Linked DNA regions of Homo sapiens: region 1 is linked to region 2. Evidence: fine-mapped expression QTL. A gene starts in region 2. The other region holds a variant in brackets. All regions are shown on one strand. Distances are between the middles of the regions.

The links. PIP is the estimated chance that this variant, and not a neighbour inherited with it, causes the effect.
Region 1: its variant is the best candidate, but not a certain one, in a credible set for the expression of SERPING1 in whole blood (TOPMed, PIP 0.50).

Annotation. Positions count from the first base shown.
Region 1 is chr11:57,688,698-57,694,074 of GRCh38, forward strand. It overlaps ZDHHC5 (zDHHC palmitoyltransferase 5), which reads left to right. Exons shown (of 12, transcript NM_015457.3): 5 at 1,334-1,506; 6 at 1,638-1,740; 7 at 3,914-4,005; 8 at 5,086-5,218. Among named protein-coding and RNA genes, the nearest start is that of MED19, 21 kb to the right of the region's middle. The variant A/G (reference allele first, on the strand shown) is at 2,982.
Region 2 is chr11:57,595,416-57,600,792 of GRCh38, forward strand. SERPING1 (serpin family G member 1) reads left to right here and starts at 2,270. Exons shown (of 8, transcript NM_000062.3): 1 at 2,270-2,307; 2 at 2,834-2,906; 3 at 4,464-4,962. The coding sequence starts at 2,856.

The DNA.
Region 1 (5,377 bases), 93 kb after region 2:
TTAACCTTCATTGTCTTCATCCTAACCATATAATAGATTCTTAGCTTTGGATGTGGTATAGTCCTGTCTAACTACGTTGGCCACATGGTCCAGCTCTGTCAAATGGTGTTAATAATGACATGGCATGAGAGGCAGAGCATAAATATTATTGCAGGAGGGAAGCTTTAACTCAATATGGGCATAGGCTTTCTTTTTTATTTATTTTTACTTTTTGTAGTGATGAGGTCTCACTGTGTTGCTTGGACTATCTCAAATTCCTGGCTTCAAGTGATCCTCATGCCCTGGCCTCCCAGAGTGCTGAGTGCTGGGATTACAGGCATGAGCCATTGCACTAGCAGGGTGTAGGCTTTCTTGACACCAAGATTTATAGTTCTAGCCTTCTATCTATTGGCTCAGTTTTGGTTATTTATCCTGGCTTTGCATTTTCTCTTCCAGAAAATCATGCTGTTGTGTTTCAATTTGTTGTAGTTGTTTTCCTGCCTGTCCTTCTGCATCCCTTGTCCTTTTTCCATTCCATTTTCACTTAGCTATAAGCAGTTACCTGCCAAATCTTCCTTCTAATCCTCTTTTCTTATGAATCTTGATGTTTCTGCAAAACCTCTGACATTCGTCACTTTTAGAGTTCCTTGGTCACATAGGATAAACATTGAGAGCCGGCCTTGGTCTTTTTTATATATATATATATTTATTTATTTATCGAGACGGAGTCTCGCTCTGTTGCCCAGGCTGGAGTGCAATGGCGCAATCTCGGCTCACTGCATCCTCCGCCTCCCGGGTTCAACCGATTCTCCTGCCTCAGCCTCCTGAGTAGCTGGGATTACAGGCACGCGCTACCACGCCCGGCTAATTTTTGTATTTTTAGTAGAGATGGGGTTTCACCATGTTGGTCAGGCTGGTCTTGAACTCCTGACCTCGTGATCTACCCGCCTCGGCCTCTCAAAGTGCTGGGATTACAGGCGTGAGCCACCGCGCCCGGCCAATTTTTTTTTTTTTTTTTTTTTAAGAGATGGGGTCTTGCTATGTTGCCCAGTACAGTGGCTATTCACAGGCAGTCATCATAGTTCACTACAGCCTTGAACTCCTGGGCTCAAGCCCCAGCCCCCCAAGTAGCTGGGACTACAAGTGTGCACCACTACGCCTGGTTGGCCTTGGCCTTTGACCAACCTCTGGAAGGTCTCCCTTGCAGATTTATAGAGCAAAATAAACTGGATTTAATTTTGAACTAATTGGTGACCATGATCAAAACTTAGCTGCCATTTGTTTCTCTTCTTGACAGAAGTAATTTAATGCTATGGTCCAGGGATGCCTCTCATCTGTCTCTCTTTGTCCCTAGGAATTTGATCATCACTGCCCCTGGGTGAATAACTGTATTGGTCGCCGGAACTACCGTTATTTTTTCCTTTTCCTCCTTTCCCTGACAGCCCACATTATGGGTGTGTTTGGCTTTGGCCTCCTTTATGTCCTCTACCACATAGAGGAACTCTCAGGGGTCCGCACGGCTGTCACGTATCCTTCAAGGCCTTTTAGATTGTGGGATTGGAAGGGGGAGGAATGAGGGCTAAAGGGAAAATGGCTGCAGTAGGGGCCGGGGAAAGTGAGGTCATGTTGCTCTGTTCTCCTTGATTGTTTGGCATCAGAATGGCAGTAATGTGTGTGGCTGGCTTATTCTTCATCCCTGTAGCTGGCCTCACGGGATTTCACGTGGTTCTGGTGGCCAGGGGACGCACAACCAATGAACAGGTATGGAGAAAAGTGACGAGAGACCCCTGAAGAGCAGGTCATGTCTCTTTAGCCTTCTGATTAGTGTGCAGTGTAGTGCTTCCACAAAGAGATGCTTAATGAATACTTTTCATGATTATGTAGAGATTAATGGTAGGGAGTGAGGTAGTCCTAGTTCCTCATGTAAGTGTAGAGGCCATGTAAGAATAGAGGCCATTTCTCACATATACACCATGGAATACTATGCAGCCATAAAAAAGGATGAGTTCTTGTCCTTTGTAGGGACATGGATGAATCTGGAAACCATCATTCTGCGCAAACTGTCGCAAGGACAGAAAACCAAACACCGCATGTTCTCACTCATAGGTGGGAACTGAACAATGAGAACACTTGGTCACGGGGTGGGGAACATAACACCCTGGGGCCTGTTGTGGGGCAGGGGGAGCGGGGAGGGATAGCATTAGGAGATATACCTAATGTAAGTGACGAGTTAATGGGTGCAGCACACCAACATGGCACATGTATACATATGTAACAAACCTGCATGTTGTGCATATGTACCCTAGAGCTGTAAGTATAATAATAATAAAGATACTCTCAAAGAGATACTAAGACAATAGAGATAAAGGCTGAATTTTGCCCTAAAATATCTTTTTTTATTTTTTATTTTTTTGAGACAGAGTCTTGATCTGTCGCCCAGGCTGGCATCCAGTGGCGTGATCTTGGCTCACTGCAACCTCTGCCTCCTGGGTTCAAGCGATTCTCCTGCCTCAGGCTCCCAAGTAGCTGAGATTACAGATGTGCATCACCACGCCCAACTAATTTTTGTATTTTTAGTAGAGACAGGGTTTCACCATGTTGGCCAGGCTGGTCTCGAACTCCCGACCTCAGGTGATCCACCCACCTCAGCCTCCCAAAGTGCTAAAATATCTTTTATTTATTTATTTATTTATTGTAATTTTAGTAGACACGGGGTTTCACCATGTTAGCCAGGATGGTCTCGATCTCTTGACCTCGTGATCCGCCCACCTCGGCCTCCCAAAGTGCAGGGATTACAGGCATGAGCCACTGCGCCCAGCCTAAAAATATATTTTATAACAAAATAATATCTATCTCCAAAGAAAGTCTTGGATGGTTTGGCATCATCACCTGAAATATCAATTGAGAGACCCAAACCAAACTGAAACTAGACAATATAGCATAAAGAATAAGATGATAGTTTTTTAAACAATACTCACCATAGAACTTGGTATCCAAATAAT[A/G]GTATTCTTTCTTTAGTTTGTCAAAAATCATATTAATAGATTTTTAAATTTAAAGTGTAGCAAGACATATGTATATGTACATATATGTTCATATACATATAAATATTTAAGATCTTCCTAAAAAAAAAAAAGAATAGAGGCCACTTCTTAGTTAACAGACATTTACTATATGCCCACTGGATACTGGAGAATTTAGGCTCTGAGTTTATAGAAACAATGAAAGACTTAGGCTAGCCCTCAAGAAGCTTATAGTGCTGCTTACAGGAAAGCAATGATTTTTGTGCATATAATAGTAGCTAACCTTAATTGCTTTTTTTTTTTCTTTTTTGAGACAGAGTATCGCTTTGTCACCCAGGCTGGAGCCCACTGGCTGGAGCCCACTGGCTGGGGCGCAGTGGCACGATCTCGGCTCACTGCAACCTTTGCCTCCTGGCTTCAAGCAATTCTCCTGCCTCAGCTACCCAAGTAGCTGGGATTGCAGGTGCCTGACACCATGCCCGGCTAGTTTTTATATATTTTTATAGTAGAGATGGGGTTTTGCCATGTTGGCCAGTTTGGTCTCAAATTCCGGACCTCAGGTGATCCACCTGCCTCAGCCTCCCAAAGTGCTGGGATTACAGGTGTGAGCTGCCATGCCCAGCCCTTAATTGCTTATTCTTTATCTTAGTTTTCAATATTTAGAAAGCTATCCCATTTTACATGAGGAAACTGAGGTTTTGGGTCAGCAACCATGAGGTAGACCTAGGATTTGAACTAAGGACCCTGACTGTAGATTCCCTGCTCTTAACCATAACATATATAAATTTCTTGTGTTTTACTCATTTGCATAGCCCTCAGATAGTGAGTGCACAATAACTTGTAATAGATTTGTATTTTGGCCTTTGGAAGTCAAGGTCTCATCTTCTAACCTGGTATTTTTTTTCTCCCTCTAGGTTACGGGTAAATTCCGGGGAGGTGTGAACCCCTTCACCAATGGCTGCTGTAACAATGTCAGCCGTGTTCTCTGCAGTTCTCCAGCACCCAGGTACACCTATCCCTCTGGTCTAGTGTTTACCATTGGTCAGAACTTTTATCTTCTTTGGGCTTGTTCTGGTAAAGGAGGGGTCTGGTGAGAGCCTTTAGGAAGGGTTCTCTATCTTAGAATGTTAAGTACCCACTCTATCTTAGAATGGTAAGTAGTCTATCTTAGAATGGTAAGTACCTACATGCCCATCCTTTAGTGCAGTGGTCCCTAACCTTTTTGGCAGCAGGGACCGGTTTCATGGGAGACACTTTTTCCACAGATGGGGGCTGGGGTGGGGTGGTTTCAGGATGAAACTGTTCCACCTCAGATCATGAGGCATTAGATTCTCATGGCTGGGTGTGGCGGCTCACACCCAGCACTTTGGGAGGCCGAGGTGGGCGAATCACTTGAGGTCAGAAGTTCAAGTCCAGCCTGGCCAATATGGTGAAACCCCTTCTCTACTCAAAATACAAAAATTAGCTGGGCAAGGTGGCAGGCACCTGTAATCCCAGCTACTTGGGAGGCTGAGGCAGGATAATTGCCTGAACCCAGGAGGCAGAGGTTGCAGTGAGCTCAGAGCACACATACAACCTAGATTGCTTGCATGTGTAGTTTACAACAGGGTTCTAGGGTTTGCGCTCCTAAGAGAATCTAATGCCTCCGCTGATCTGACAGGAGATGGAGCTCAGGTGATAATGCTCACTGGCCCACTGCTTACCTCCTGCTATGTGGCCCAGTTCCTAACAGGCCATGAACCGGTACTGGTCTGCGGCCCAGGGGTTGGGGACCCCTGCTTTAGTGGACACTGTGAATTCCATTGATATTCTTCAGGTATTAAGGTAAATCTTTGAGAATTGAGGGTGAATAAGATACACTCTAAAGTGCTTTCCTTGAGCTAGGTATCTGCTCACAAAGGCCTAGTCCTGCTGCAGTCCTTCACAGAATCAATTCTGTTTATTGCTAAGTAAGTGATGGCCAAAACTGCAATTACTTTTTTACCAACCTAATAAAAATGGTTTACAGAAACAGTAGATACTTTAAAATATAAATGAATGAAAGCTCTCTCGCTGTGTCTCTCTCTCTCTCTCTCTCGACACTTAGGTATTTGGGGAGACCAAAGAAAGAGAAGACAATTGTAATCAGACCTCCCTTCCTTCGACCAGAAGTTTCAGATGGGCAGATAACTGTGAAGATCATGGATAATGGCATCCAGGGAGAGCTGAGGAGAACAAAGGTGAGGAATTTAGAGAAGTCAAGCTAGATAACATGGAAGTCTCACCCAAGGCAAAGAGACGGAAGCTTGCTTTAGTTTCCTTTGTGTTTTTTTTTTTTTTTTTGAGACAGAGTCTTGCTCTGTTGCCCAGGCTGGAGTGCAGTGGTGCTCAGTGCAAAC
Region 2 (5,377 bases):
GTGCAGGAATGGCTTTGGCCAGAGAGCTATTATAGATGGCTGAAGGAGGTAGACCCACAAGCTGGGAAAACCTCTCCACTGGGGCTTTTTCACCCTGGAACTTTGGCCCACAAAGCATCGTACTCTTGCAGCTGTACCCAGAATATTCCCTTTGCTGTCTGCTTCAGGTTAGCCCCTGGTGTGTGTCAATAATTTGTAAGGGTTAATAAAGAACTGTTGGGTCAAACAGACCTGGTCCACATCCTGGCTCTGTCACTTACTGGCTTTGTGATATTAGGTAGATCAATTAATTTCTCTGAGCCTCATTTTAACTTGTTTAAGATGGGATTAATATAGCACCTACTTCATAGGTGATGAGAATTAGTGAGAGGATGAATGTAAATGCATGGTGAGCACTCAGTGAATTAGGTTGCTTTCCACCACCTTCTTTTCCTTTGGCTGACCCATTTCCCAGAATCCACAAGCTCATAGTCCCTTTGAGCCCACCAGCTTGAGCACTGGGGATGGAGAAACGTTGTTTTGTGTGCAGCTGTTCAAACGATGGCTCTGATGTTATATAACTTTCCCATGGTTTAGGAGGTTCCCAAGTGGCTTCAGAGAATAAAGCACAAAGCTGGGGAAGACTCTTTCTGGGTCTTGTCCAAGGACCCCCGAGGAGACACACAAATATTCTCCTGTTTCTGTCCTTGGTCAGTCCCTTAGAGTAGCAGTTCTGGTGCTAGCAGCAAACTTTCCTGAATGCTCCAAACACAGCCAGAGGATAGGCCTGCAGTGAGATGACGATAGAACATGATAGCTATATTAGGTCATCAGAGACAACCTGTTTGTTTTGCAGATGAGGCAGAGTTATCAGATTTAGCAAAAATACAAAATGCCAATTATATTTGAATTTCAGATACACAACAATGACAACAAAATTTATTTTACCATAAGTATATTCCAATGTAAGCATTTTTACCATAAGTATATCCCAATGTAAGTTTTTTTTTTTTTTTTTAGAGACAGCAAGTGTCTTACTCTGTTGCCCAGGCTGGAGTGCAGTGGCATGATCAATGCTAACTGCAGCCTTGAACTCCTGGGCTCAAGGGATCCTCCTGCCTCAGTCTCCTAAAAGGCTGGGATTACAGGTATGAACCCCCAGGCCTGCCTACTTCGTGTGTTTTATCTGGCAATGCTGAGAGGACAGCTAGATGTCGAGGACAGCCAGATTTCGAGGACAGCCAGACGTCAAGGGGGAAAGCAACTTGCTGGCTCACACAGCCAGCCAGGTCTATTGTGGAGCCCTAGTCGCAAACACATACACCCCAGCTTTCAAGTTTTTAAATATTTATTTAGTTAGTTATTTGTTTTTTGAGACAGTCTTGCTCTGTCACCCAGGCTGGAGTGCAGTGGTGCAATTTCAGCTCACTGCAACCTCTGCCTCCCAGATTCAAGTGATTGTGCCTCAGCCTCCCTAGTAGCTGGGACTACATGTGCGCGCCTGCACTGCCCAGCTAATTTTTGTACTTTTAGCGGAAACGGGGTTTCCCCATATTGGCCAGAGTGGTCTCAAACTCCTGACCTCAAGTGATCCACCCACCTCGGCCTCCCAAAGTGCTGGGATTACAGGCGTGAGCCACCGTGCCCGGCTAGCTTTTTTTTTTTTTTTTTTTTTAATTAGGTTGAATGCTTGTTGAGCTGGGTGCCTCACATCCGTTGTCTGTTATACAAAGAACTACTGATTATGGGTCTCTACGAGCAAAAATGGCAGAACACCTACAGGGCACAGGGGAGATGGGAGCAGGGATTAGGCTTCAGAATACTTCTCCAAATGAGGGTGATCAGGGCCCGACATTTCACTGCTCTAAGGCTCAGTATCTTAACTATCAAATGGGTACAATGGGGCACAAAGGGTTACTTTGAGGAATAACGGAGGTGAGCAATTTCCAAAAAGTTCATTCCTTTAAAAACTGCGGAGCACATTTTGTGTACATGCTGTTTTTATTGTTACTCATGAAGACGCGGGGGAAGCTTTGGTTGTGTAAAGCTGAGAACTGCACCCAAGCTTCCCCGTTCACCCCACCTACCAGGGGATTTGGGCTAAATTCCTGGCCTGGCCCACAAAGAAGACCAAGCGGTCAGTCCCATTCCGTCCCATCCTGATTTACAGGAACTCACACCAGCGATCAATCTTCCTTAATTTGTAACTGGGCAGTGTCCCGGGCCAGCCAATAGCTAAGACTGCCCCCCCCGCACCCCACCCTCCCTGACCCTGGGGGACTCTCTACTCAGTCTGCACTGGAGCTGCCTGGTGACCAGAAGTTTGGAGTAGGTTTGGTGCTGGGCAGGGGTGGGGAGTAGGGTGGAAAGCATGGAGTGAAGAGGTCTAGGGAGGGGGTCTCCTCACCCCCGCCTTCCTGCCCGCCTTGATCTCGGGGGTCTCTATAGGCTTGCTTCCACCTGGGACTTCTGCCTCCTCCTACCCCAGCCCCTCCCGCCTCAGGCCTGTTGTGCTCAGCCCCCCAGGACCTCCCCTCCCCCACGCCTCTGGCCTCATTGTTTGGTTAAAGCAGGACCCCCTCCCCCTCCCACCACCTCCCCTCCGACTGAACAGATGGACAGAGACCCGGGCCCACGGGGAGAGGAAGGGCCAGCCGGTGCCGGGAAAGGGAAGCGGTTTGGGGAAAACAAAACAGAGGGAGGAGCCAGGGAGAAGGTGGCCCCAGGAGGGAGGAGGAGGGAATTCGCTAAGAGGGACTGGGGCCTGAGACGGAATGGGGGCGGGCCCCGGGCGGGGTGGGGGCCCCTGGGCTCCCAGGGTGGGAGCTGGCTCCGAGGCTGGCTGGCTCCGCAGGTCCGCTGACGTCGCCGCCCAGATGGCCTCCAGGCTGACCCTGCTGACCCTCCTGCTGCTGCTGCTGGCTGGGGTATGTGGTCCCTTGTGGGATGGGGGACGGGGGTGGAGACGGGAGGCGGGATGGTGCGGGGTGCGGGCGGTGGCTGAGGATTAACCCTTCAGGCTCCGGGGAATGAGGAGAGCTCCTCTTGGGATCATTGAGTGTGATCCTTGCACACGCACTCGTAGATGGTGGAAAGAGCTCAGGACTCAGACAGATGCAAGTTCTAATCTTGGCGGGCCATGTAGGAGCTGCGCAGCGTGGTCCTGAGGACGTCACTTTTCTCAGCCTACTCCTCCTGATTTATAAAATGTTGAATAAACAGATCCCACCCTGTCCACCAAGCAGGCTTGGCAGGAGGATCACATAGGGCAAGGAGATGGGAAGCATTTTGTGATATCAAAGCAAGAGTTTGTTGTAGAAAAGAGCTGTGGGGAGGAGAGGTTTGGCTGCTGTGACACAGACGGTGGTCCCAGGCTAGGGCCTGTGAAGACAGGGAAGAATGGTAGCAAACATACGTGGGTCTGGGTGGGGGTCAATAGCAGTGAGAGGTCCCAGTGGTCTGGGAGGTCATGGACTAGAAATAAGGCTAAGAAGTGCAGGATCCCAGGAGAAAGGTAGGTAGGGGTGTGTGTATGTGCGTGTGTGTGTGTGTGCACGCGCAAGTTGGTATCACATACTCAGCAGATGATGTAGTTATGAGCAGGGAGTTTGGAATCAGAGACCTTGTTTTGACCCCTAGCTGTTTCTCCCATTTCTGTGAGACCCTGGACTAGTTAATATGTGTCGGTATGAGTTTCTCTACCTGTGAAATGGAGCTAATGCGTGGTTTCTCAGTGGAGGATCTGTTGACATTGGGGCTGGATAATTCATTGCTGAGGGGCTACCCTGCGCATTTTAGGATGTTTTGCAGTATATCTCTAGCCTCTACGCACTAGATTCCGGTAGCATCTTCCCTGCTGTCTCCCTGTGACAACCAAAAATGTCTCTGGACATTGCCAAATATCCCCTGGGAGTCAAAATTGTTTCAGAGCCGCTGGCCTATACTACTTCTCTCTCCCTCCCTTCCTGCCTCCCTTCTTTCCTCCTTCCCTTTCTTCGTTCCCTTCCTAATGTGTACTGTTTTTCCACACCCACTAATGGGTTGCAACCCACAGTTTAAAAATTTACTGTTCTAAATCAAGGAGCACAAGTTCAAATGTCTGTACTAGCCAAGCAAGTGAGTCAAACAGGTAGATATTTACAGGAAATTGCAAGAACATAGATAAATGACAACACTCAGCTTCACTGTTTGGAAAACAACTTCCTACAGGGCAGTAATTGGTCAGAGATTACAGAGTCCCTGACTATCCCTCATCTTCTGCAGAGCACATTCCTGTGCACCCCCACCCTCACCCTGTATTGCCCCTTCTCTGAGGAATTAGTGGTGGTGGTTCTAAGACAGATTGCTCATCTGCCGCACTGTCAGAAATTACTCTCTTGTACAGGACATTTTCCACATCCACACCTTCTCTTCCTGCTTTGAGTATTTTAGAGGACTGTGCCTCGTAGTAAGAAAAAAATGAAACTCAGTTTCTTGAACCACAGGATAGAGCCTCCTCAAATCCAAATGCTACCAGCTCCAGCTCCCAGGATCCAGAGAGTTTGCAAGACAGAGGCGAAGGGAAGGTCGCAACAACAGTTATCTCCAAGATGCTATTCGTTGAACCCATCCTGGAGGTTTCCAGCTTGCCGACAACCAACTCAACAACCAATTCAGCCACCAAAATAACAGCTAATACCACTGATGAACCCACCACACAACCCACCACAGAGCCCACCACCCAACCCACCATCCAACCCACCCAACCAACTACCCAGCTCCCAACAGATTCTCCTACCCAGCCCACTACTGGGTCCTTCTGCCCAGGACCTGTTACTCTCTGCTCTGACTTGGAGAGTCATTCAACAGAGGCCGTGTTGGGGGATGCTTTGGTAGATTTCTCCCTGAAGCTCTACCACGCCTTCTCAGCAATGAAGAAGGTGGAGACCAACATGGCCTTTTCCCCATTCAGCATCGCCAGCCTCCTTACCCAGGTCCTGCTCGGTAAGACCCTGCTTGAATTCTCTCCAGGTCATTTGTTGGACACTCCCATAAGAGTCACCAATCCAGACACTTACAAAGCCATGCCTCTGGGAAGAAGCTGTAAAAATGGGCTATTATATATTGGGGGTGGGGTAGAGGGATGTATCTTTTCATTCTTGAACATTCCATCATTTCACAGTGATGTAATAGGCACGATTGCTTGTAAAACTCTGTGACTATACAAGAACATATAAAATAAGGTCGCAGCCACTAACCATGTTTCATGGCAAGGAGAGGTGATAAGAAAGATGAAATTAGGCGCAGTGGCTCACGCCTGTAATCCCAGCACTTTGGGAGGCCAAGGCGGGTGGATCACCTGAGGTCAGGAGTTCAAGACCAGCCTGGCCAACATGGTGAAACCCTGTCTCTACTAAAA